Homo sapiens: one gene and its partners. The protein of the gene in region 6 interacts with the protein of the main gene of each other region in a biochemical or structural test. Each region holds a gene or a part of one and is shown on either strand. Other genes may lie near its edges.

Evidence for each region.
Region 1: the proteins of TJP1 (region 6) and SLCO1B1 interact in a test that uses a peptide from one of them, tested with the Homo sapiens proteins (one large-scale study listed by IntAct).
Region 2: the proteins of TJP1 (region 6) and MYOZ3 interact in a test that uses a peptide from one of them, tested with the Homo sapiens proteins (one large-scale study listed by IntAct).
Region 3: the proteins of TJP1 (region 6) and CCDC134 interact in a test that uses a peptide from one of them, tested with the Homo sapiens proteins (one large-scale study listed by IntAct).
Region 4: the proteins of TJP1 (region 6) and SH2D3C interact in a test that uses a peptide from one of them, tested with the Homo sapiens proteins (one large-scale study listed by IntAct).
Region 5: the proteins of TJP1 (region 6) and RSBN1 interact in a test that uses a peptide from one of them, tested with the Homo sapiens proteins (one large-scale study listed by IntAct).
Region 7: the proteins of TJP1 (region 6) and TECPR2 interact in a test that uses a peptide from one of them, tested with the Homo sapiens proteins (one large-scale study listed by IntAct).

Annotation. Positions count from the first base shown.
Region 1 is NC_000012.12:21,179,694-21,183,193, forward strand, and holds part of SLCO1B1 (solute carrier organic anion transporter family member 1B1), read left to right. Parts: intron 1-3,500. UniProt on the Homo sapiens protein: Mediates the Na(+)-independent uptake of organic anions.
Region 2 is NC_000005.10:150,674,751-150,678,250, reverse strand, and holds part of MYOZ3 (myozenin-3), read right to left. Parts: intron 1,545-3,500; coding exon 1,376-1,544; 3' UTR 1-1,375. UniProt on the Homo sapiens protein: Myozenins may serve as intracellular binding proteins involved in linking Z line proteins such as alpha-actinin, gamma-filamin, TCAP/telethonin, LDB3/ZASP and localizing calcineurin signaling to the sarcomere.
Region 3 is NC_000022.11:41,807,179-41,810,678, reverse strand, and holds part of CCDC134 (coiled-coil domain-containing protein 134 isoform 1 precursor), read right to left. Parts: intron 1,805-3,500; 5' UTR 1,789-1,804; coding exon 1,686-1,788; intron 801-1,685; coding exon 679-800; intron 473-678; coding exon 388-472; intron 1-387. UniProt on the Homo sapiens protein: Molecular adapter required to prevent protein hyperglycosylation of HSP90B1: during translation, associates with nascent HSP90B1 and the STT3A catalytic component of the OST-A complex and tethers them to a specialized translocon that forms a microenvironment for HSP90B1 folding.
Region 4 is NC_000009.12:127,744,167-127,747,666, forward strand, and holds part of SH2D3C (SH2 domain-containing protein 3C), read right to left. Parts: intron 3,106-3,500; coding exon 2,981-3,105; intron 934-2,980; coding exon 398-933; intron 1-397. UniProt on the Homo sapiens protein: Acts as an adapter protein that mediates cell signaling pathways involved in cellular functions such as cell adhesion and migration, tissue organization, and the regulation of the immune response.
Region 5 is NC_000001.11:113,795,477-113,798,976, forward strand, and holds part of RSBN1 (lysine-specific demethylase 9), read right to left. Parts: intron 2,561-3,500; coding exon 1,887-2,560; intron 828-1,886; coding exon of another isoform or gene 825-827; exon of another isoform or gene 1-824. UniProt on the Homo sapiens protein: Histone demethylase that specifically demethylates dimethylated 'Lys-20' of histone H4 (H4K20me2), thereby modulating chromosome architecture.
Region 6 is NC_000015.10:29,707,469-29,710,968, reverse strand, and holds part of TJP1 (tight junction protein 1), read left to right. Parts: coding exon 1-138; intron 139-1,932; coding exon 1,933-2,410; intron 2,411-3,500. UniProt on the Homo sapiens protein: TJP1, TJP2, and TJP3 are closely related scaffolding proteins that link tight junction (TJ) transmembrane proteins such as claudins, junctional adhesion molecules, and occludin to the actin cytoskeleton.
Region 7 is NC_000014.9:102,432,441-102,435,940, reverse strand, and holds part of TECPR2 (tectonin beta-propeller repeat-containing protein 2), read right to left. Parts: intron 1,707-3,500; coding exon 730-1,706; intron 1-729. UniProt on the Homo sapiens protein: Probably plays a role as positive regulator of autophagy.

The DNA of each region.
Region 1 (3,500 bases), on a different chromosome or scaffold from region 6:
TTTTCTTTTTTGCAGCTCAGTGGAAAATATATACATCTGTATCCAATGTTGATAGATCTAGCTGGAGCTTAGATTCTCCCTTCCCGCTTCTTTATCTCCATCTTCTCTTTTATTCAGCAAACACACCCAAGTATTTCCCATCTTTATATGTAGATACAGTTTTTTATACCCCCACACAACTTTCCAGCTGAATCCTTTTTTTATTCCTCTTTAGAACCAAGCACCTAGGAAAATATCAGCTAAATTAGCTAAGATATCTCACCTTCTCACCTCCCATCCACTTCTAAATCCAGTATAATCTGCTTCTGTTATTAGTGAAACACAATCAATTTCTACCTACTTTACTATAGATTTGTAAATGGGTATATTTCTATCATTTGCGTTAATTGATATTTCCAGTGCTTCTTCATCCATTTTCCCTCCTTAGATATCTTATTAGTACCTAAAGCACAATATGTCAAAATCTGATCTCATCACCTTACCTCCAACCCCACTGTATTCCCTATATTCCTCCTTTTGATGAATATCCATACCTTATTCAATTATTGACTGAGTTACTGTGCCCTGTAATCTCACATTTCTCTGCATTTACACTTGGTAAAACTTTTCCCTCTTTTTCATTTGCATAGTTCTTGAAGCCTCTTCCAAAATGTGGATCCTCTTAGAGAAGCCTTACTTCACCACTTTCCATTAGTCTCAAATTAATAGCCAAGAGCATGCCTTTATTGTAACCCTTCTCACAATGAGCTATTAATATTTGTGTGCTTACTTGCCATCTCTTTACCACATGACAGAATGGCATGTTCTTAGCAAATAATAATTAGTTAAGTTTGTGAATAAATAAATATGATTTTCCACCTCATTAGGCCTTCAATAGATCATTCCAAAGAGATCAAAGGATTCATTTCCAAGATGGGATAGACATCACAGTGGGCCAGCAACAGCCAAAAACTTGAAAGTGTTTGCTAATCTAAAACTATAAAGAAAATACTTGATAAAATGTTTTACATGTTCAATTTTAGACATATGCCTTAGAGTAGCTACACATTATGTACATTATTTCTACTCATTCAACTCCAGTTTCATCACTGCTTTATCACGAAGAGTACAGAAATACGTGGTAAATGTCCTTAGGTTAATTATTTTATAAGCTCTCTAAATAAGAAATTATTACATTATTTGAGAATTCATCACCATACAATTTCTAACATTGAATGTTCAGATATCATTATATCTTCTCTTATTCAGTGATGAGTATGAGCTTCACTTACAAAGTATACTTTGGCAAACTCCAATGCCTAAAGGAGCTGAAGACATAAAAATAAATGAGTAAAGAGTGCCAGGAACAGGAATTTAGGGTGTGATGGTTAGAATAGGAGAATTCTTTTGGTTGTGAACTGCTCTCCCCATGCATCCAAAAGCACTTGTGTTCCTCAGCTCTGGCCTATTCTTTTAATGCACAAATTTAGGCCCTGCATTGGCAAGGACTTCTGATTGGTTTCCAAGAAAATCCAAACACCAAAATTTTTGTGTAGAATTTTTCAATTTTTAAGACTGTGAGTGAGCCAAGAAAAACTTTTTCTCACGTCCTATCTAGCGCGATTATGACCCTTAGTTACTATGTGTAGAACAGTGAAAGAACAGAAAAAAAAGTCATCAAAATTACATTTGTCACAGGTGATGAATAAATACTTTGCATGTAGATGGAGTCACTGATTTAACCAATCATTTCCTGAAGTCTGAGTTGTTGATTATGACATGGTATGATCATATAAATCAAATTTAAACCCAGATCTGTGCATACTTGAAAATAATTATTTCTAGGTAGTTTGTTATCAAGTCAATGTTATCTTATATTAGTGAGTTTTCTTATAGATTAGAGTAATGGCACCATTTAATCGTGCCACAAACTTCTGTGGTGTGTGTTTCTGTATGCATATGCTTTTTTATTTCTTATTATTTTTCTTTTATTATGGTAAGAACAATTAAAATGACATCTACCTTCTTAACAGGTTTTGAAACATACAGTGGACCCATGAACAATAGGTTTAAATTATGCTCGTCCACTTATGCACAGACTTTTTTCAATAAATATATTGAAAAAATTTGGGGAGATTTGTGAAAATTTGAGAAAATTTATAGATGAATTGCATAGTGTAGAAGTAAAGGAAACCCTAAGAAAAAGGTATATCATGAGTGCATAAAGTATGTTTAGATACTCCACTATTTTATCATTTACTACCATAAAATATACACAAATCTATTATAAGAAATTAAACTTATTAGAGGGTACAAGATGGCCAACTAGACACACTCAGGAAGCACCACTTCCACTGAGGAAGCCCAAAATATTGAATAAACTAACATACTTCGAGCATATCTTTTGAGAGAAAACACTGAAAGTCAATAGAGAGGTGACACAGACACTGAGGCTGAAGAGAGAGAAAGCTGGAAACCCAGTGCAGGGTTGTTGAACACCAGAGATAGTTTCCAGCCCTGAGTGGCTCCTAGCTAAGGGGTGAGTAAAGTGGCAGTGGGACAGCCTACTCTCACTGTTGACATCTGGGATCCTACCTACAAGAGAACCCACGACCCCCAGAGACATTGGAACAGGCAGGGGCATCTGCCCAGAGAGTAGGCAGAAATAGAACTACAGCCAGCCTTGAACCCAGGGGGTTTTGCATGTTGGGTAGCTGCAGCAGAACGCAGCCATAGGCGCCCAACATCCAAGGCTCTCTTTCTTCCACCAAGTAGCTCTCAACTCACCTGACTTCTGAGCGAAGAGACAGCGGGGCCAACTTTCCTGTGAGCTGGGACACATCTGTATTGTAGGCCCTTCTGCCCGCCAGTCCCTCCCAGTACTCCTGCCTGGCCACACCTGCAAGAATATGTGCACAGCACAGCCTCCACTGCTCAGCCTGAGGGTTTTTTCAAGGACCCCCACCTGAGTACTTCCTCAGTATCCTTGGAGCACTTCAGATCCCCCAGTGTAGCTACTGCCTGAACCAGAGGGGCCAGACAGTGGAGACACAGGCTAGTCCCAAAACCCCAGGGCTGCAGTGCATAGCTTGGGAGTGTGAGCTGAGATTGGTGCCCAGCACTCAAGCAGAGGAAGAATTCTGAATCTCAGAACACTGAGAGGGGTGAGATGCACGGGTTCATGGGCCAGTGCAGAATGAGACATGCCTCATTTCATAGGCCCAGTCCAGGAAGGCTGTGTCCTGTCTGCCAGCTGCTGCCTCTGCCTAAGGGAGCTCCATGGCTCAGAACAGTTTCCTAACAAAAGAAATGCAAGTGTGGCACCAGTGACCAGAGCGGGAGATTGGGGGGGTGTCCCCTATGGCCCAGGCACAGGCCTGTTAAGGGGGTCATCTCTCTTGCCCGCTGCCACAAGCACTGTTGTAAACACACTGAAAAACAAAAGAGTTATGTCCCCGAGTAACAGCTTATCTGCCAGCCATTACTCTTAAGCACCATTTACTGGATCACAGCTCAATTTA
Region 2 (3,500 bases), on a different chromosome or scaffold from region 6:
AGTGGAAAGAAGGAATCTTAATAAGCACCCCACTTTGCACCTGTCCTGTTAGGTGCCCAGTGGGTGGCCCCTTCTCTCCATTCCCATGGCCTCATCCCTTGCAGGCTTCCTGGCTTCTGGCATTACCCTTCTCCAATATGCGCCCCACACAGCACCCAGCAAGACCCATCACTAAAACCTTCCCCATTTCCTTAGTGAAGCCCACCCCATGCTGGCCCTCACTGGCTCCTCTAGCACAGCCTTCTCCCTTCTGCAGAACACCCTGCACCCGTGCTCAGTTCCATATTTTTGCACATGCTGGTCCACTTTCCAGAAATACCCTCCCCCTCACACCCCCTTCATGGACTCTCACGCCTCCCACAAGGTCCCACTCAAATCCTTCAGGAAGCTTCCAGAATCCCATCTCACACCTAGGGTGAGGGACTCCTTCTTCTGCTCCACAACACTTTGTTCCTCAATTGTCAATAAGCATGCTTTAGGGAAAATTATGGTGACTTCATGCTCTATAATGTCTTCCCTACTGTCTTTTCCTCCTCGAGGCCCGGGCCTGGCAGTGTCTAGCGCACAGTCAGCGCTTAGGAACTGTTTAGAGCATGAATAGATGAAGACCAACTGCATCTCAGTAAAAGGAACATTTTCTAATTATTTGAGTTATTCACAGGAAGATGGGGTGCCAGTGAGCACCCTGTCACCGGGGGAGTGTACACTACAGGAACAGGAAAGAGCAGAGGTGTGGATGTGGACTCCTAATGACACAAACCATGGATAAGTTATGCTGGAATCACCTGGAGTACTGGTTGCTATTTATTTATTTACTTTTGAGAAGGAGTCTCACTCTGTTGTCCAGGCTGGGGTGCAGTGGCGCAATCTCGGCTCACTGCAACCTCTGCCTCCTAGTTCAAGTGATTCTCCTGTCTCAGCCTCCCAAGTAGCTGGGATTACAGGCATGCACCACCATGTCCGACTCATTTTTGTATTTTTAGTAGCGACGGGGTTCCACTATTTTGGCCAGACTGGTCTCAAACTCCTGACCTCAGGTGATCCTCCTGCCTCGGCCTCCCAAAGTGCTGGGATGACAGGCGTGAGCCACGACACCCGGCCCTGGTTGCTATTAATAATACAGATTCCTCGACTCAGGAGACTCTGATGCTGCAAGTCTGGGACAGTCCAGTTGTCTGGATTTGGAACAACATCCCCAGGTAATTTTGAAACACACCCATGTTTTGGGACGACTGAACTTGGTGACCTCTGAAGCCATTTGCAATCAGGTTTTGTGTGTGAAGGCCCTTCTTCAACTGTGAAGTGCTGTCCACAAGTCTTGGCTCCGGATGTTACCAGGCCCCCGAGACTGGGGAACTGAAGATTCAGGCTAGGGCTACAGCTCCTCGGACTCTGGGAGGTTACGGACCCAGCCCTGGGCCACTCTGTTGAAGCTGGGTCTGAGACGGAGGAGTTCCAAGCCACTGAGGGGCTCCGGGATGAAGGGGGTGCCTGGCCTGGGAAAAGTGCCCCCCACGAGGGGTCCTCCAAATGGCACCGGGGTCCTGGAGAAAGAGAGCAGCAGGAGAGGTGGGCTGTGTGGAACAGGGACAGCAGTACACTGACATGTGGATCACCATGTATGGGCCCCTCCCTGCCGCTCTCTGAGCCTCAGTTTTCCCTTCTATACAGCAAGATTCTGTACATCTTTTTTTTTTTTTTTTTTTTGAGACAGAGTCTCGCTCTGTCACCCAGGTTGGAGCGCAGTGGGGTGATCTCAGCTCACTGCAACCTCCGCCTCCCAGATTCAATCAATTCTCCTGCCTCAGCCTCCTGAGTAGCTGGGATTACAGGCACGTGCCACCATGCCCGGCTAATTTTTGTATTTTTAGTAGAGACGGGGTTTCACCATGTTGGCCAGGCTAGTCTCAAACTCCTGACCTCATGATCCGCCCATCTCGGCCTCCCAAAGTGCTGGGATTACAGGCGTGAGCCACCGCACCCAGCAATTCTGTACATCTTAAGAGGTTTTTTTCAACTTTGCCCATTTCCAAGTCTGCGCCTACTTGGGTGGTTCGTTGCTTAGCAATAGAAGTGAAGCCGATGGAGTCAGAATTGACTTGTCCTAGGCAAGACTCTAGACTCCCCTTCAGTAAGCTCCCCTTAGGACAAAAGGCCCAAAACTAGAGAGAGAAGAGAGCATTAGAAAGAGCACTGAAAATCAGGGGGGAAATGCAGATTACAACAGATATGCCATTTCTCCTCCAGGACACTGGCACGATGAAATAATGTGGTAACTGGGCAAAGTTGGTGAGATGGCGGGGGAAAAGTTTCACACATGCTGCTGGTTAGAGGGTAAGCCAGTGCTGCTACCGCAGAAGACAATTTGGCAGGATCTTTCTAACCTGAAATGTGTGAACTATGTCACCCCGCATCTTCACCTCTGAGCATATGGCTTAGGAAAGCACAGGCGCGTAGGCACTGGGATGCAGACCTGAGCAGCACATTAGTGACAAACCAGAAACAACCCACGTGTCCACTAGCAGAGAAATGGGCAAGACAGATAGAGCATGCTCACACGATAGAAAGCTATACAGCAGGCTGGGCACGGTGGCTCACGGCTATAATCCCAACACTTTGGGAGGCCGAGGAGGGCCGATCACCTGAGGTCAGGAGTTCGAGACCAGCCTGGCCCACATGGTGAAACCCCGTCGCTAGTAAAAACACAAAAATTAGATGGGCATGGTGGTGGGTGACTGTAATTCCAGCTACCTGGGAGGCTGAGGCAGAAGAATTGCTTGAACCTGAGAGGCAGAGGTTGCAGTGAGCTGAGATTGTGTCATTGCACTGCAGCCTGGGCCACAAAAGCAAAACTCTGCTCCACCCCGCGAAAAAAAAAGAAAAAGAAAACTATACAGCAGCTTAAAAGGAACTAGAGCTCTACGTATTAGTATGGTAGATTTCGAAAGCGTAATGTTGAGTAAAAAAAGCAAGTTAACAGAATGAAGTGCAAAGTATTAACACACACACCCCCACACACACACAAACGCCATTCCCCCTACAGGCATGCAGCTGCCCACACAAAATGTTCTGAGCCCATTCAGGCCAGCCTGACAACCATGTTACCTTTGGGAAGGCAACTGGGATTGGAGGATGGTGAGCAAAGGGGCTCTACATTTATTTGCCTAACATTTTTTAAAAGAGAACCTATGTATGTGATTTTAATAATACTTTTTTTTGTTGTTTTGTTTTGTTTTGTTTTGAGACAGGGTCTTGCTCTGTCACTCAGGCTAGAGTGTAGTAGAAGGATCTCGGCACACTGCAACCTCCGCCTCCCAGGTTCAAGCGATTCTCCCACCTCAGCCTCCTGAGTAGCTGGGATTACAAGTGTGTGCCAAGAAGCCCAGCTAATTTTTGTATTTTTAGTAGAAATGAGATTTCATCATGTTGGCCAGGCTGGTCTTGAACTTCTGACCTCAAGTGATCCGCCTCCCTCGGCCTCCCAAAGTGGGATTACAGGC
Region 3 (3,500 bases), on a different chromosome or scaffold from region 6:
ATTAAGAATACAAAAACTAGCTGGGTGTGGCGGCATGTGCCTGTAGTCCCAGCTACTTGGGAGGCTGAGGCAGGAGAATCACTTGTACGCGGGAAGTGGAGGTTGCAGTGAGCCGAGATCACACCACTGTACTCCAGCCTGGCGACAGAGTGAGACTCTGTCTCAAAAAAAAAAAAAAAAAAAAAAAAAGAAATGCTATTGCTAAAAAGTAGCCAGTTAATTAGGGAGGCCACTCACGAAACGCCCATCTGCCCAAGGGGACCACTTAGAAGGTGCCACAAGAGGGCACTTCCGGGGAGAAAAAAAGAGTGACAAGAACAGGAGAGAAGGAGCAGCTAGAGAAGATCGGGTGGTGCGGAGGACAGGGCGGGGCAGGGCAGACCATACCATCCTTCAGCTTCTCGTCCTGGGGGAAGGGCCCATCTGGGAGCACATCAGCAGCGGTGAGCACTGTCCGGGAGTCCTCCAGCACCTGAGGGAATCCCGCCAGGGCTGAGTGGCTTCGCAGTGCCCATCACAGACTGCTCCCATCCCCATTTATTTAAACCCCACTTCAAGTCTTACGTGTGCGCAGTTCCCCTGTCCCTGAACACCAACCCGTTAGGGAACTCCTGTTTACCCATCAGTGCCTAGATCAAAGACTGGACCTGCCATGAGCTGCCCCCTGCCTGCACACACCTTAAAGAGCCCCTTGAGCATGACATCAAGGATCTTGTACTGCTGGTGGATGTCGTTCAGCTGTGCCAGGTTCTTCAGTGCCAACAGCTGCTCCCGCCGCTTCACCTCAAACATCTTCTTGTCTGGGCAGAATTAAGTTAAGGGGCTGGCATCAATAGCCCTGCCTGGACAATCCAGCAGTCTTGCCTCAGAAGGCTCATTCCTGACCAGCAAGTATCTGCAAGGGCCATGGACACCCAGGGCTAGAAGCCTCCAGGAAATGAACAAACTGACAAGTGCATGGACCTGCAACGCACTATTCATCCAGTTCCCATGGCGCTCCACACCCAGAAGCCTGAAACCAAGCCTCCAGACCTGGCTCCTGCCTTCCCTTTGCTGTGGTCTTCCTGCCGTCTCCACAAGCATTCTACTGTTCCAGAGCCTCCACCTCTCTGCTCGCGCTGCACCCTCTCTGCCCAGGATGCCCCTCACCCTCCTCTAGGAGTTTCTTTCCTTTCAAGGCCTGGCTCAAAAACCATCACACAGTGTTTCTCCCTGACCCCTCCTGTGCCCATCAGAGCACTGGTCACAGAGTAACATGATCATTTGTTTGGATACTTTCTCCCCCTGGGCTTATGGACACCTCAAAGCCAGGGGACTTGTTGTAATTCATCTTCGTGTCCTTGAGGCCTGGCCTGGAGCAGGTGGCCCAGTTCACCAGGGTCCAGATGGGCCAGTAATCCAGAATTCCTGAGTCTCCACCCAGGATCTTGCCCACAAGGTGCCAGGCCATGCACAGTCCTCACTGAGCCTTTGCAGTCTAGAGATGGGCCTTGTCATCTCCATTTACCATACGCGGAAGCTGAAGCTCCGGAGAGACCTGACTTGCTCAAGGTCTGGCTAGAGCACCTCACCTTTTCTCCCTGTTCCCGCCAGCTGGGCCTGCTTATCCCTGGAATCCCTGAGTAGAAGAACCTCATTTATAGACCTCTCAAAGACAGCTCATTAACTACAACCCCAAAGGATACAGATCTCCAGGCTTGGGTCCAGGGAGGTCCTCAAGGTGCCTGTGGCTCCCATCCCAGACAAAAGCAGGACAAAGAGGAAGGCCAGGAATTGAAGAAGGTCCATATCCAAACCTCTTGAGCTGGAAGAATAACCCAAAGAAAGAGAGTGAGACTCAGAGATCGGTGTTACATAAAATAGAGTGCACAGGTGAACAGCAGCTTCCCCCGACATAGTGCAGCCTCTGTATACCAAGAACCCAGCTTTGGGGAGCCCTGAAGCTGCAGCTCTTATCCCAGGGCCAGCAGGCACACAATACAGAGCCGTGGGATGCTAGGAGGTGGGGAGAAAGATAAGTGTGTGTAACACAGGAACACTTAGAGCACAGGGTCAGTGGCTAGAGCTCTAGGCTGGAGCCCTGCCCCCGCCCGTCTCTGGGACCTCGAGCAGCTTGCCCAGCCTTTCTGAGCCTCAGCCTTCTCAGCTGTAGAACAGGGATAAGGAGGTCACCTCCCTGCTGCAGGGAGGGAGGTCTGGGTGAGGCACTGTGCCTGGGGAGGAGGGGCTCGTCAACAGTATTCCTTCCACATCCCCTATCCTGGTCTCCCAGGAAAGCATCTGGTCAAGGAAGCCCAGGCAGAGAAGATATGAAACTTCTGGAGTTTTCCTCCTTCCTTGACTTTTGTCATCAGAAAGTAAGAAGGGACAAAGGGCAGGGAGGAAGGCAGGGCAGTCTCGGGGTAAGGGGGCTTGCTACTCACTCACTTTGGAACCATAGGTACTACATAGAATACCTGTTCATATTCAGGCAACATGCAACAATTATTTATTTATTTTAATTTAATTTTTTTTTTTTAAGATGGAGTTTCACTCTTGTTGCTCAGGCTGGAGTGGAATGGCGCAATCTCGGCTCACTGCAACCTCCACCTCCCGGGTTCAAGCGATTCTCCTGCCTCGGCCTCCTGAGTAGCTGGGATTACACGCATGCGCCACCATGCCCAGCTAATTCTGTATTTTCAGTAGAGACGGGGTTTCTCCATATTGGCCAGGCTGGTCTCGAACTCCCAACCTCAGGTGATCCGCCTGCCTTGTCCTCCCAAAGTGCTGGGATTCAGATGTGAGCCACCGCGCCCGGCCCTTTTTATTTATTTTTTCCTTAGTAGAGATGAGGTCTTGCTATATTGCCCAGGCTGGTCTCCAACTCCTGAGCTCAAGAGATCCTCTCGCCCCAGCCTCCCAAATACTGGGATTACAGGCGTGAGCCACTATGCCCAGCCAACACAATTATTTATTGAGCACTGTGAAGTTCACTTTCCTGGTGATTCCCAGGACATACATTGCTGCCTTCCACCCTTCCTCTTTCTCCCCTTGAAAGGATGCATCTTTTCACTTGGCTGGGGTGGTAATTCTCTTAAATGTTTTTTGTTAGTTCCTGTAATTTTTTTTTTTTTTTTTGAGACAGGGTCCTGCTCTGCTGCCCAGGCTGGAGTGCAGTGGCACAGTCATGGCTCATTGCAGCCTCCACTTCCCAGGCTCAAGCCATCCTCCCACCTCAGCCTCCTGAATAGCTGGCACTACAGGTGCATGCCGCCATGCACGGCTATTTTTTGTATTTTTCTTAGACGTGGGTTTTGCTACATTGCCCAGGCTAGTCTTGAACTCCTGGGCTCAAGTGATCCACCCATCTTGGCCTCCCAAAGTACTGGGATACAGGTGTGAGTCACTGCACCCGGCTACTATAGCTTTTTTCTCTGGTTCTAACTCTGCTGTTACGGCCTGACACTCAAATATTCTGTCTTGAGGGCCTAGAAAAACAATGTTTTCCTCTAGTATAACTT
Region 4 (3,500 bases), on a different chromosome or scaffold from region 6:
TTCAAGTGATTCTCCTGCCTCAGCCTTCCAAGTAGCTGGGATTACAGGCGCCCACCACGACGCCTAGCTAATTTTTGTATTTTTAGTAGAGACGGGGTTTCGCCATGTTGCCCAGGCTGGTCTTGAACTCCTGACCTCAGGTGATCCGCCCGCCTCGGCCTCCCAAAGTGCTGGGATTCAGGTGTGAGCTACCACCCCCGGCCTTTTTAAAAGGAGAAACTGGAGGCCCAGTGAGGCTAAATGACCAGCCCAGAGTCACAGAGCAGGCAAAGGACAGCCATGGAGCTAGAATCCAGGCCCACCTGCTGTACTTGGGGAATCTGGGAGCCAGCTTCTCACTGCCCTGCCCCACAGAACAGAGATGCTCCCTCCACCCCAGTGCACAGCCAGCACCTACCAGGCAGTCCACCTTGGTGACATGCCGGGCCAGCGTCCGGGCATCCACTTCTGCCAGCAGCTCCTTGACCTTGCGCAGAAGGCCCACCTCCAGTGGCCGGTTATCCCTGGGGATCAGTAGTGACTGGAAGGTGGCCGGGTTGAAGGAAGAAGTGACTTCCACGATGGGGACTGTGAAGGTCTTGCCCCAGTCCCCTTCAGGGGCCCCATTTTCTGACAGTTCCTTTAGCCTCTCCCCATAGCTCCTGGCCTGCTGGCTGGAGGTCTCAGTCGCTGCCCACTCTCGGCTGCCACGCACGGGAGGCTGGAGCTGGCAGTAGTGGCCAGAGTCCGGGTCACTGTAGCTGCTGAGTGATGGTGACGGGGAGGCCTTGCCAAGGGTGTGGGAGGGGCTGGTGTGGGGGCCCTTGTCTGACTCCCCATGGGTCTTTGGGGCACTTCCGGGACACAGCTGGGGCTCACTGGAACGGCGGGCGACAGGGGAGGCAGGCAATGCTGTGGCAGAAGGGGCTGCAGGGGCGGCATGGACACGGGTTACTGCAGAAAGGTAGAGAGAGAGGCCCCGTTATAGCAGCTCCCCACCAAAGTGAGATTCCCGCACCCCTTCCCAAAGAACAGGCTCCCTCACTCCTTGTAGGGAGTACAGAGGTGATGTCCCCACCTCCCTGCATCACCAGAGACCAGGGCCGATTGACTCTGGCAAGCTGACCAGCCCAGGTGATGCTCTGAAATCACCAGGACCCAGGAGTTTGCATGGCCCCACCCTGAGGCTGCTGCAGCCTTGGGGACCCACTGCTTGGAGGAGCTTCAGTGATCCGGGGAAGCTGAGTACCTGCTGGAGTTTCTTGTGCCACATGTGATTGTTTCTCGACGAATTAGCAATAATGATTTCCTTTTTTTTTTTTTTTTTTTTTTTTTTGAGTCACTGTCTCGCTCTGTGGCCCAGGCTGGAGTGCAGTGGTGCCATCTAGGCTCACTGCAACCTCCACCTCCTGGGTTCAAGCAATTCTTCAATTCTTGAGCCTCAGCCTCCCGAGTAGCTGGGATTACAGTCATGTGCCACAACGCCTGGCTAACTTTTTTTTGAGTCAGAGTCTCGCTCTGTTGCCTAGGCTGGAGTGCAATGGCATGATCTCAGCTCACTGCAACCCCCGCCTCCCAGGTTCAAGCAATTCTTGTGCCTCAGCCTCCTGAGTAGCTGGGATTACAGATGTGCCCCACCATGCCCGGCCTGAATTAGCAATAATGATTTGTTGCTAAACCTTGTGTGCTAGGAGCTGGCAACATGCTGGAGACATAATGACAGTAAAACCATCATCAAACCTCAAAGGCGATATTTACTAAGCTCTTAGTGCCTGCAAGACCCTTCTTTGTACCTCAGTCTATTTAATCCTTTCAATGTCCTATGAAGTAAGTACTTTTATAATCCTCATTCTACAGATGAGAAAAGTGAAGCTCAGAGAGGTGCACTAACCTGCCCAAGGTCACCCAGCCAGCAAGTGGTACAGCTGAGATTTAAGTCTTGACATCTGGGCTGCTTTACTATACCAGATTGCTTAGAAACTGTCCAATAAGTCATTCTGGCAAGGAATTTTAGGTTTTATACTCAGGGTATTGCTTTGAAATCAAGTTTGTAGTTATGACAAAGTTGGTGGCTCTGTGTTTAGGGAAGGATTTGTGACAACCGATACAGACAGCAACACTTCAATGGAATGCCACCCTAGGCGAAAGTTCCTCCTGAGTCAGCCCCCTCTCGTGACACTTGGCCTGCCACGTGGACAATACGGCCTGTTGAAAACATTCTTTTTATTTTTTTTCCAGAAATGATCTATTGGAATGTTTCTAACAGAGAAACTTTCTTCGTATTTATAAGAAAGCACAGTGTTCCGTACTTTCCACTTAATTTTGCTGCAAACCTAAAACTGCTCTAAAAAATAAAGTCTATTAAGAAAAATAGAGGCCAGGTGCAGTGGCTCATGCCTGTAATCCCAGCACTTTGGGAGGCTGAGGCGGGTGGATCACCTGAGGTCAGGAGTTCGAGACCACCCTGGCCAACATGGTGAAACCCCATCTCTACTAAAAATACAAAAATTAGCTAGGCATGGTGGCACACGCCTGTAATCCCAGCACTGTGGGAGGCCAAGGCAGGTGGATCACCTGAGGTCAGGAGTTCGAGACCACTCTGGCCAACATGACGAAACACCGTCTCTACTAAAAATACAAAAATTAGCCAGGCGTGGTGGCAGGGGTCTGTAATCCCAGCTACTTGGGAGGCTGAAGCAAGAGAATCGCTTGAACCCAGGAGGCGGAGGTTGCAGTGAGCCAAGATCCCACCACTGCACTCCAGCCCACAAGAGCAAAACTGTCACAAAAACAAATAAATAGTTGCTAAATAAACAAACCATGGATACATCTTATATGTTGATATCAACAGTTCTGTTAGCAGGATTCCAGTGTCAGTTCTTTCTCTTGGTAAAGGTCGCGCCTCATAAAAGAGGCGGAAACACACATAACCACACATAGGTGACAGAAGTCTTCAACAACAGATTCCCTCCACCTGCTCCACCCCCTCTGCTGGCCATACCAGTGCTGTAGGCAGGGGAGCTAGGGCTCTCGGAGATGGGCGACATGGGTGAGTGCAGGTCTGGGATCTGGTCCATGCTGAGGGCACAGCTGCGGATGGAGTCCCGAGGGCGGGGCAGCGACGTACTGTGGAGCAGACACCATCATGGGCAGGGAGCCCGGAGGTCAGGGGCCTCAGCCTGCCTCTGGGACCCCCCACCTCTGCACCTTGAACTTCAGAGGCAGAGAAGGCTTGGAGATTATCAAATCCAACCTCCCGACTGACAGGTACCAAAAAAACTGAAGCCCAGATGAGGGAGGGGGCACAGCGAGTCAGGAGCAGAGCTAGGAACCCTGGTGGCTAGAACGCCTGGTTTCTTTTTTTCTTTTTTTGTCTTTTTTCTTTTCTTTTTTGTTTTTTTTTTCGGAGATGGAGTCTCACTCTGTCGCCCAGACTGCAGTGCAGTGGCGTGATTTCAGCTCACTGCAACTGCTGAACCTGCCTCCCGAGTTCAAGACATTCTCCTGCTTCAGCCTCCGAG
Region 5 (3,500 bases), on a different chromosome or scaffold from region 6:
TAGTCGGCTAATCCAACCTCCCATATCCACACCATACTCTTCTCTAATGACTGAAAATTCATAAATAAAATTAAGTTCCAGGACCACCAGAGCACAGGACTCATTCAACAGTCCTCAATATTCTTATGTGGTTGAAGCGTTTAATATCTAATTTAATCATAATCTGAAATGTTCTTAAAAAGTGGTTATTTTTTAAATCTCAAAGTAAGTATCAAGGTAAGTTGTTGGTACAGTCATTTAAATTTCAGCTCCATTTTAAAAAATTAATTGGAGGACAAAAATCAGCAGGGAATATTTCAAGATATTTTCTTTTATTAACTATTTAGACTGGATACTGTCTGTTGACATACAAATTTGATCCACTTTAACTAATATGAATGTTAAAAAGACACCCTTACAAAACTGGGACAGTTTTCCCCCAAATTTCTGGCTTATTTCTCAGAAATGCTTGTTGGTCTATCAAAAGAGAAAATTTGCTGCATTTTTCTAAACTAAAAAAATGATAGAGCATGTTGATTCTGCTCTCAGCAATATCTTTCCTTGTTAAATAGGGAACTTATGGGGATTATGGACTATATTAGGAGAAATGTTTTCAGTCTCATCTGCAATATTTATAAAAATAGGATTCCTTGACCTTCAAAGGGCAAAACTTAAAAAAAAAATGAAAATGAAAAAAGAAAATCTACTACAAAAGTCAGCACTTCGGTACCTGGTTGTGGTAATAAGGCCAAAATCCAAGACGAAGCCCTTTATTGCACATGGTGTTCCAACATCTTGGGCAGCCCCATCTTGCGACCTCTCCACATTGGCTGCTCCTGCTCTCTCTACTGCAGAGAGAACTTCAATTAGAGAAATTCTGAAGCTCATAAATCTAAACTGGATACTCCCCTCATTGGAGGCAAAGATGGTAAGACTCACTAAAAAGATTCAAGTTAGAGGAGGTTTCAAATAAATCTAAGTGGCTTGAAACCACTATAATTCAGGCAGCTGAGAGTCTTATTACGGCAACAATCTATTTACCTAAAAAAATATATATATATTAAGGGAAAAGAATGGCAGCAAATTACTAGACAACCTGAAAAAACAGAACATATAATCATAAAAGTTTAAAAAGTGAAAGTCTCCACTAAAGTTGAATTTATAATATATACTGCAGAAACTTATAGCTGACCATTTATATTCAATTCTTACGAGAAAAGCAAGTAAGAAAAAAACTAGGACACATTATTAACTTCTTATTCCCTAAAATAACTTCACTGAAAAAAATGTTTGGTTAAAACCACTGGTTAAGAAGCAGACGTTTCCCTGCTGACTTAAGCCTAGCTGCCCATGCAAGGCTTCAAAAAATGTCTTCACCTACAACAATGTATAGGCAGAAGGAGCAGAGGCTATGGCGGTCTTCCTAATGACACTTCCAAGTCACATAAATGGGGTATATTTCTGGGATGGACTGCCAACAAGTTACTGAAAGAGATATAAAAACTCCAAAAACCTGGCATATAAACAGGCCCATGCCCTCACGTGTTTTATTATGATATAAAAGCAAATCTTAACTAAAGTTATCCTGAGACTAACAGATCTCAATCACATCCTCCATACTAACATTACCCGATTTGTGAAAGACCAGGTAAGTTTTCAAGCTAGTTTTCCATAAAGATTTGTAATGATGTATAACATGTATAAAGCATTCCCTCCAGTAAAGAAGAAGCCCCACCCGAACTCAGTAATTAAGATTTTTCAATTAGAGGAAGAGACAAACAATTTGAAGCACCTTTATTACCATAAATTTGTTATCAAAAATGTGCTGGTATGTGCTGTGCGACAGAAAGAGGTTAATTCTGTTTAGAATCGTATTTACTAATTTTTAACAACAATTTTTATCTTACCTGAGTGTGAAAATTTGAAATGGTGGTTGTTTCAATATCTTTCTTGCCCAGAATTTCCATTTTCACTGGAGTGTTGGGGAAATTAAAAGCAAAGTAGTCCAAGAAGTCTGGGAGATAAGCAGCCGCTCCATGCACTATTGCTAAAGCATAGTAAGCAGCATTTTTCTCATTTTCACTGAATGTCAAAGCAAGAAACTCCTCAGAAAATCTCTCCATCTCCATTGGAGACAAAAATGAGAGTTCATCCATGTAAGCATGAAGGACAAGAGCACCACCATTGGACTGGTGTTCCTCATGAATAAAGTTGCTAAATTTAGTACCTGTTTTTAAGAAATTTCTACGAATAGAATGTTCCTGGTGAGTCATAAAAGGTGTTTGTACTCCCTGGGGTACCCGATATTCTTGCATACCCAAATTTAATCGGCACAGCTGTTCATCTTTCAGATACCTGAAGGACTCCTTATTAAGTCCTGAAGTGCTATTTATTTGTCCTTGGGTGAGAATTTCTTTACTGATGCGGGTCAGGCCAGCACAGACGGTTTGTACTTCCTTATTGTACATTTTAAGGCGTCTTCCTCGCATGTCTTCTCGGTGTTTCTTTTTCTTTTTCTTCTTTATTTTCTTCAAGACAAAATCATCGGCTCTCTGGGTTTTACCATTTTCATCTGGTGTTTCTGGCCACAATAATTAAAAAGAAGTTAGTTGCTAGGACTAGTGTCAACATACAAGCTTCTTAAGGTACTTGATCTCATTAAATAGCCTATCCTCAATTTCTCTGAATTTGCTATTACAACTTACGTGTTTAGAAAACAAATGAGACAGAGATCTTAAATATAATAATATTCTGGATTGAAGAAAAGAATAAAATTGAAGGTATCCATTTTTCAAAGCAGTATATTACTGATAATGGAGAAAAATCAGAAATAATTCACACATCCAAAAAACAGAGAATGGTTAAATAAATCATGATATAGCAATGGTATGAAACATTATACGATAGCTAAATATGATGATTCTGAAATCTATGTAACAACATAGATTCTTTTGTTCAGTTATCATCATAAAATTTAAATTTAAGCTAGGCATATTTTGCTGTCAGCCTATGAATTACTATGATACATACAGGTAAATCAACAAAGGCAAAGTAAGCCATGAGATATCATTTTTTCCTATCAAGTTGGCAAAGTCTGCGGTTTCTGGTCATTCTCAACTACTACTGCTGGAAGTATAAACTGGTACAACTTTCTGAAGGGCAATTTCATGATACATGTTAAAAGTCTTAAAAAATATTTCTAATCCTCAGACCCAGAAATTCCACTTCCAAGTAAAAGTTATCTAAGAAAATAATTGAAGATTATATAAAGATATCCATTACAGTATTATTTAAAACGACACAACAGGGAATGCTCCTAAATGTCTAATAACAGGGGACTGATTAAACTCTGGTAGTTACATATTATAAAACACTACTCAGCCATTGTAAAGTATATTATAGATGAAAAAACTGACATAAAAATTAGAAGGTTACAAAATGCTTAGACTCATTCTTTCAGAAAGCCTTTTCTTCCCCACCCAATCTGGATAGCTACTCCTGCTATGGGCTCCCTTAAGCTT
Region 6 (3,500 bases):
GATCATTTGGCGAGAAACGCTATGAACCCATCCAGGCCACTCCCCCTCCTCCTCCATTGCCCTCGCAGTATGCCCAGCCATCTCAGCCTGTCACCAGCGCGTCTCTCCACATACATTCTAAGGGAGCACATGGTGAAGGTAGGAAGTTCGGAAGTAGACATTTTAACACAGTAATGCTTATGAAGTAAAATTCTGGTGGTTTCTAGGCAAAATGGTTTTTACATTAAAAAATACATGCTTGAAACCTTTGGGCTGGGAACAGTAAAAACTAAGAATTTTGTTAAAAGTATGTCTCCTGTTTTTACAAGACCATTATTTTGGACAAGCCTTTTAGCTAAACAGATTTTAATCTATTTTATGCTAGTCTCTAAATCTTCTGGAAGTAGTGTTTGCCAGTATATGTAAAGATGGTTTGTAAAACCTACTATGTTTTATCTCACACACCCAAATAGAAAAGCCATAATGTTTCATATAAAATGTATCCCATACACCTTGACTTTTGCATTTACATACCAGGTAGATCACATATAGCTCCAGATTATTCATCTTAAGAGCTTTGTAACATTTTACCCTCAGCATATAACACAAAGTGGTTATCTCTTCTGCTGTGGACAGGCATTTTCCTAGCACAGACTTCTCTTATTATTCCCTTAGGAGGCACCTCCTTGGGCTTGTGAGTCTTCAAGCAGATGTGTTATAGTTCTGGATTGAGGCTATCTTTTATTAAGATTTTTTTTCACACATGCCCATGTTTACAGATAAAGACAGTTTTAATTCTTACTTTCCAGTCCTTATGCCTTTTCTCTTTTTTTTTTTCCTCTTTTTGAGACGAAGCCTTGCTCTCGCCCAGGCTACAGTGCAGTGGCGCAGTCTCAGCTCACTGCAACCTCTGCCTCTCGGGTTCAGGTGATTCTCCTGCCTCAGCCTCCTGAGTAGCTGGGACTATAGGCGCACACCACCACGCCCGGCTAATTTTTGTATTTTTTGTAGAGACAGGGTTTCATCATGTTAGCCAGGCTGGTCACGAACTCCTGACCTCAGGTGATCCGCCCACCTCGGCCTCTCAAGAGTGCTGGGATTACAGGCATGAGCCACCGCACCTAGCCTTCTTTCTTTTCTTGCTGATTGCACTGGCCAGGACCTCCAATAAACTCTGAAATGTAAGTGGTGAAATTGGACCTCTTTTGCTAGTTCCTGATTTTAAGGAGGAAGGACCTCATGTTTTATCCTTTAGAATGTTAGCTCTAGGATTTTCGTAGATGTCCTTTATCATGTTTAAGACATTCCCTATATTCAGAGTTTGCTGAAAGCAGTCAGATGTTTTTCCTGCATGTATTAAGATGACCATATGATTTTTCTTCTCGTACTGTGGAAAATTATATTACTATATTCATGAGGTATTTGGATTAATAATTCTCCTGTCTTGTAGTGTCCTTAATTATTTCACAGAGTTCAGTTGGTACTGTGTTACACTGTGGCTGGCAGTGCATAAAAAATCCTGTGGTTCCACTTTTTAACCAATGTTTGGCATCATCAGACTTTTCGGTTTTTCCATTCTAGTGGGTGTGAAATAGTATTTAATGCTTTTTGTTGGTTTTGTTTTACATTTTTCTAATTAATAGTGAGTATCCTTATTATATGATTATTGGGCATTCTAGTTTTCACAAAGACTAGTGCCAATCTTTGGAGGCCAGGAATCTTAGCAGCTGGACCCTGACTCCAGGGCAGCAGGGTATATATATTCATGGCACCACCTGTCCATGCTGCCCTCATCCCTCAGCATCACACCTAGCCTCCAGGGCTCAAGAGTCAGGCTCTGGCTGTGCGACCCACATTTGGGCCTCGACTCCAGCACCAGGACAAGTTAAGCTGGGACAGGGCTATTATAACTTTTTTCAGAAAGTTATTTAAATGCTTACGTTTGTTTTTCAGGTAATTCAGTGTCATTGGATTTTCAGAATTCCTTAGTGTCCAAACCAGACCCACCTCCATCTCAGAATAAGCCAGCAACTTTCAGACCACCAAACCGAGAAGATACTGCTCAGGCAGCTTTCTATCCCCAGAAAAGTTTTCCAGATAAAGCCCCAGTTAATGGAACTGAACAGACTCAGAAAACAGTCACTCCAGCATACAATCGATTCACACCAAAACCATATACAAGTTCTGCCCGACCATTTGAACGCAAGTTTGAAAGTCCTAAATTCAATCACAATCTTCTGCCAAGTGAAACTGCACATAAACCTGACTTGTCTTCAAAAACTCCCACTTCTCCAAAAACTCTTGTGAAATCGCACAGTTTGGCACAGCCTCCTGAGTTTGACAGTGGAGTTGAAACTTTCTCTATCCATGCAGAGAAGCCTAAATATCAAATAAATAATATCAGCACAGTGCCTAAAGCTATTCCTGTGAGGTAAGACTTATGCCTTTGCTCAAAGCATTGGCCCTGTGATTTTTCTCATGTGAGTTTGTTGTAGTTTATTTGACTTGGGACTTTAAAGTGATCTTTTTAACTCAACCTTTAAACTGAAGAGTGTTGTTGCAATGAATGCTGTTACATAGAAGGTCCTCCAGGAGGTACAAGATGTTGGTAAAATAATAAAGCTAACAGTCGTGTATGGTTGGTAGGTATTGTCATCATCCCTGTTTTACTAAGAACTGAGGTTGAGTGACAGTAAGCAGTTTGCCCAGGGTCACAGCTAGAGTGAGGTGAGCCTCAATTTAGCTGCTGGTCATCCGACCTCTGAGCCCATGCTTTTTTTTTTTTTTTTTTTTGAGACAAGAGTCTCCCTCTGTCGCCCAGGCTGGAGTGCAGTGGTGCGATCTTGGTTCACTGCAACCTCCACCCCCTGGGTTCAGGCAATTCTCCTGCCTCAGCCTCCTAAGTAGCTGGGACTACAGGTGTGTGCCACCACGCCTGGCTAAATTTTTTGTATTTTTAGTAGAGGTTTTCACCATGTTGGCCAGACTGGTTTTGAACTTCTGATCTCAAGTGATCCATCCGCCTCCACCTCCCAAAGTGTTAGGATTACAGGCGTGAGCCACTGCACCCAGCCAGGAGCCCATACTCTTAACCAGCCATGACCTTTTGTAACCTCCTGACCTACTGGTAAGGTGCATGTGGAGGACATCTAAAAACATTAAGTATCTATGTTCCTCATTCATTATTTGTTCCACAATGATGCTAAGAAGAAAAATAGAATAACCTCTGACTGTTTAAAGAGCAGCAGTTAGTGAGATGGCTGAGCAAATGAGACAAAGTGAGCCCACCTGGAGCCTCCCTGCAGCTCCTCTTTCCTGTCTTTCATTCCACGGCGATTGACCAGATGGATTCTGGCCATACATAAAAGCTCATCTCAGCCTCCTACAGCCAGTTCCATTTTCACGCCACCATAAAGCAGAAGCACTTGCAGGCAGGGAGAACCAAAGGTCAGGATGGCCACCTGAGTCTGCTTTCCAAGAGAAAGGATGGTTATGGCGGTCACTGCCTTCCTAGCTCTGCA
Region 7 (3,500 bases), on a different chromosome or scaffold from region 6:
CTCACATCGACAGTTAGTAGGAGACAGGGCAAGACACAGTTTTGAAACAAATATATCTAGTAATAATTACTTGCTAAGGGAAGTAGGCACTTTTAAAAAAATCACTTTTAATATAAAATGCTCAAGGACAGTTAAAAGTCATCTCCTAGTTACATGTGCTGGGTGGACCTACAAAGACTGGTTACTCCAAACTGGTTCCTGTACAGCTCGCAGGGGAGCCTTGGAGCCACTGTTCGGAGGTTGAGGAGACAGCAGTTCTGGAAATGGCCTCGTGCTCTTGCAGATGGTTCCTTGGAGGGGTGTGAGGAGAAGGACAGGAGACTCCCTGCCTCCAAACTGCTCAGAGCTTTCTCTACTCCACAGGTGGACAGTCCTCTGCCCACTGGTTTTCTGAGATGGCCCCAGGCCAATTCAGCCCTGCCCTACGATGGCTAACAGTAAGTGCCTACACCAGCCTGCACTTGTGGGGTCAGAGGAAACAGCAAGACGCTACCTTGGTTGGGGAGGCAGGTTACTGAGCAGGGTAGAACAGGTCAGAAGTAGTTCAAGCCATTCATAGTCCCTGTGCTGGAAATCCCCTGAAACCCAGACTTGAAAACAGAGTTGGCCTACGGATTTTGCAGTAGGAATAGAATTTCTTTCCATGAGAAGGAAAATAATCAGTCTTGACAATTATTACCCTTAAGAAAGAAGCCTCAGCTACTTTTCCCACCACCCGAACCCACATACCTGATCTGGCTTGAGCAGCCCGGCGTCCTCTGCACCCAGCCGGCTCAGGTCCTGCTGGGAGCAACTAGGTCCGAGCTCTGTCACACTCGTCTCTGAGGATGAAGAAGGAAGCCCGTGGGCATAGATGTCCTCCTCATCGCTGGACGTCAATGTCTGATCCCGTGGAGGCTGCTCAAGCCAGGGCTTGTGAGTGCTGGCTGCCAAGGCAGAGACCGGAGTCAGCTGTCCTCCCACACTCCCCAAGACACGTTCAGAAATGGGTATTTCTTTCTGACCTGTGTCATCATCAGTGACAGCATGCCAGAGATTTGTGCTGAGGTGGCCAGAGGCCTCCATGCTGGTTAGGATGTCCTGCTCTTGGCTGGGCTCCACGGGGCTGCCTTCATCAGCTCTGGTCCCAGGCAGCCACTGTTCAGCACTTGGGGCCCAGCTGAGGCTGGAAGGCACAGTGAGTGAGTTCAGGAGGGGGACTTCACAAAAAGTGCTTTGGGGGCCAATGGGTTGGATGTCTTCCCCATCATGCGCCCCAGGAGAGCTGTCCTGTTCTTGGAAGGGTAACTGTGTGCTATTTGGTCCATCATCTGCAGGACACGGCTCATCTCCGAGTCCCGTGACATCACTGCCTCCCACATCTTCCCTCGCTCCATTGAGCAGCTCCCGCCCATGTGCATGGTGACAGTGTGGCATTTCAGTTCTAATGTCATCTTCCTCAGCCAGAGAATCAGGCATTGATCCTGACACCTCCAGGACATTAAACGTTTCGGGGTCAGTATTTTCCTGTGGGACACCGTTCACTTCACCATTGAAGCTGCTTTCCTGGTCTGGAGACTCTGCACTTAACTGATCCACGCTACTGCCCAGGACACTTGAGGTCATCGACAGCAAGTCTGTGTTCAAGGACTGGGGACTGTCCCCAGGAAATTCGGAGCAGGGTGTCGATTCCAGGGAGCTGTGACAGGTGCTCCTGCTTCCACCTTCTAATTCAGAATAAGAACATTCAAAATAAGGCACGGTTCTATATGATTAGTAAGAGACTAACTTGCACACATATTTTTGGCTCAAGAAAAAAAATTTTAAATAAAGGATATTTGGTGAATGAAGAATAAACCTCTTAAGTACAAATAATCCCAACAAAGAGATGCTTTCTATGCATGCAAGTACTGAACAAATCCATGGGTTTGAGGGCAGCTAAGAAAAACCAGGGGACAAACTGAGATGTTCACCTGGGTCACAAACCAATTCCTTATAATTATTAAAATGCTTAGAAATCTAATAACATTTCCTTCAGTGTTGCAGTCATCTTAGCTAGAGAGGATTAACAGGAACCAAGGAGTAAAAGGTTTGAAAAATTCAGTGTTACACAGCCATAACAAAGAATGAAATCTGGGCTGTGCACGGTGGTTCACGCTCATAAGCCATCCTAGCACTTTGGGAGGCCGAGGCGGGTGGGCCACCTTAGGTCAGGAGTTCAAGACCAGCCTGTCCAACATGGTAAACCCCTGCCTCTACTAAAAATACAAAAACTTAGCTGGGCGTGGTAGTGGGCACCTGTAATCCCAGCTACTCGGGAGGCTGAGGCAGGAGAATTGCTTGAACTTGGGAGGCGGAAGTTGCAGTGAGCCGAGATCGCACCATTGCACTCTAGCCTGGGTGACAACAGTGAAACTCTGTCTCCAATAAATTAAAAAATAAATAAATAAATAAATAAATAAATAAAAATAAAGAATGAAATCTTGTCCTTTACAGCAACATGGATGGAACCGCTGGCCGTAATCCTAAGCAAATTAATGCAACAGGAACAGAAAACCAACAGCATGTTCTGACTTGTAAGTGGGAGCCAAACACTGAGCACGCATGGACATAAACATGGGAAGGACAGACACTGTGGACCTCCAGAGCGGGAGAGGAGGCGGCATGGGTCAAAAGCCACCTACTGCATACTGTGCTCACTACCTGGGTGCTGTATACCCATGTAACAAACCTGCGCATGGACCCCCTGTATTTAAAATAAAAGTTGAAAAAAAAAAAGAAAAAAATTCAATGTTAAATCCCATATTTGGTAGCATATTCAACACTAAACATAAAATGTCCCAAGTATTTACCAGCATAGATCTTCTGGTTTCCACAACTTTCCACCCAGGCTCACAGAATCTCTGATTTAATCAATGGTATACATGGATAAACCAACACTTTTTTTTTTTTTTTTTTTGAGACGGAGTCTTGCTCTGTTGCGAGGCTGGAGTGCAGTGGCGTGACCTCGGCTCACTGCATCCTCTGCCTCCCAGGTTCAAGTGATTCTCCTGCCTCAGCCTCCCGAGTGACTGAGATTACAGGCACATGCCACCAAGCCCAGCTAATTTATGTGTTTTTAGTAGAGACGGGGTTTCACCATGTTGGCCAGGATGGTCTCAATCTCTTGACCTCGTGATCCGCCTGCCTCGGCCTCCCAAAGTGTTGGGATTACAGGCATGAGCCACTGCGCCCGGCCCCGACATTTTAATTTAAATACTAAAAACTATGCCAGGCGCGGTGGCTCACGCTGTAATCCCAGCACTTTGGGAGGCCGAGGCGGGCAGATCACCTGAGTTTGGGAGTTCAAGACCAGCCTGACCAACATGGAGAAACCCTGTATCTACTAAAAATACAAAATTCGCTGGGCATGCATACTCGGGAGGCTGAGGCAGGAGAATTGCTTGAACTCAGGAGGTGAGGTTGCAGTGAGCCGAGATCGTGCCATTGCACTCCAGCCTGGGCGACGAGCGAAACTCTGT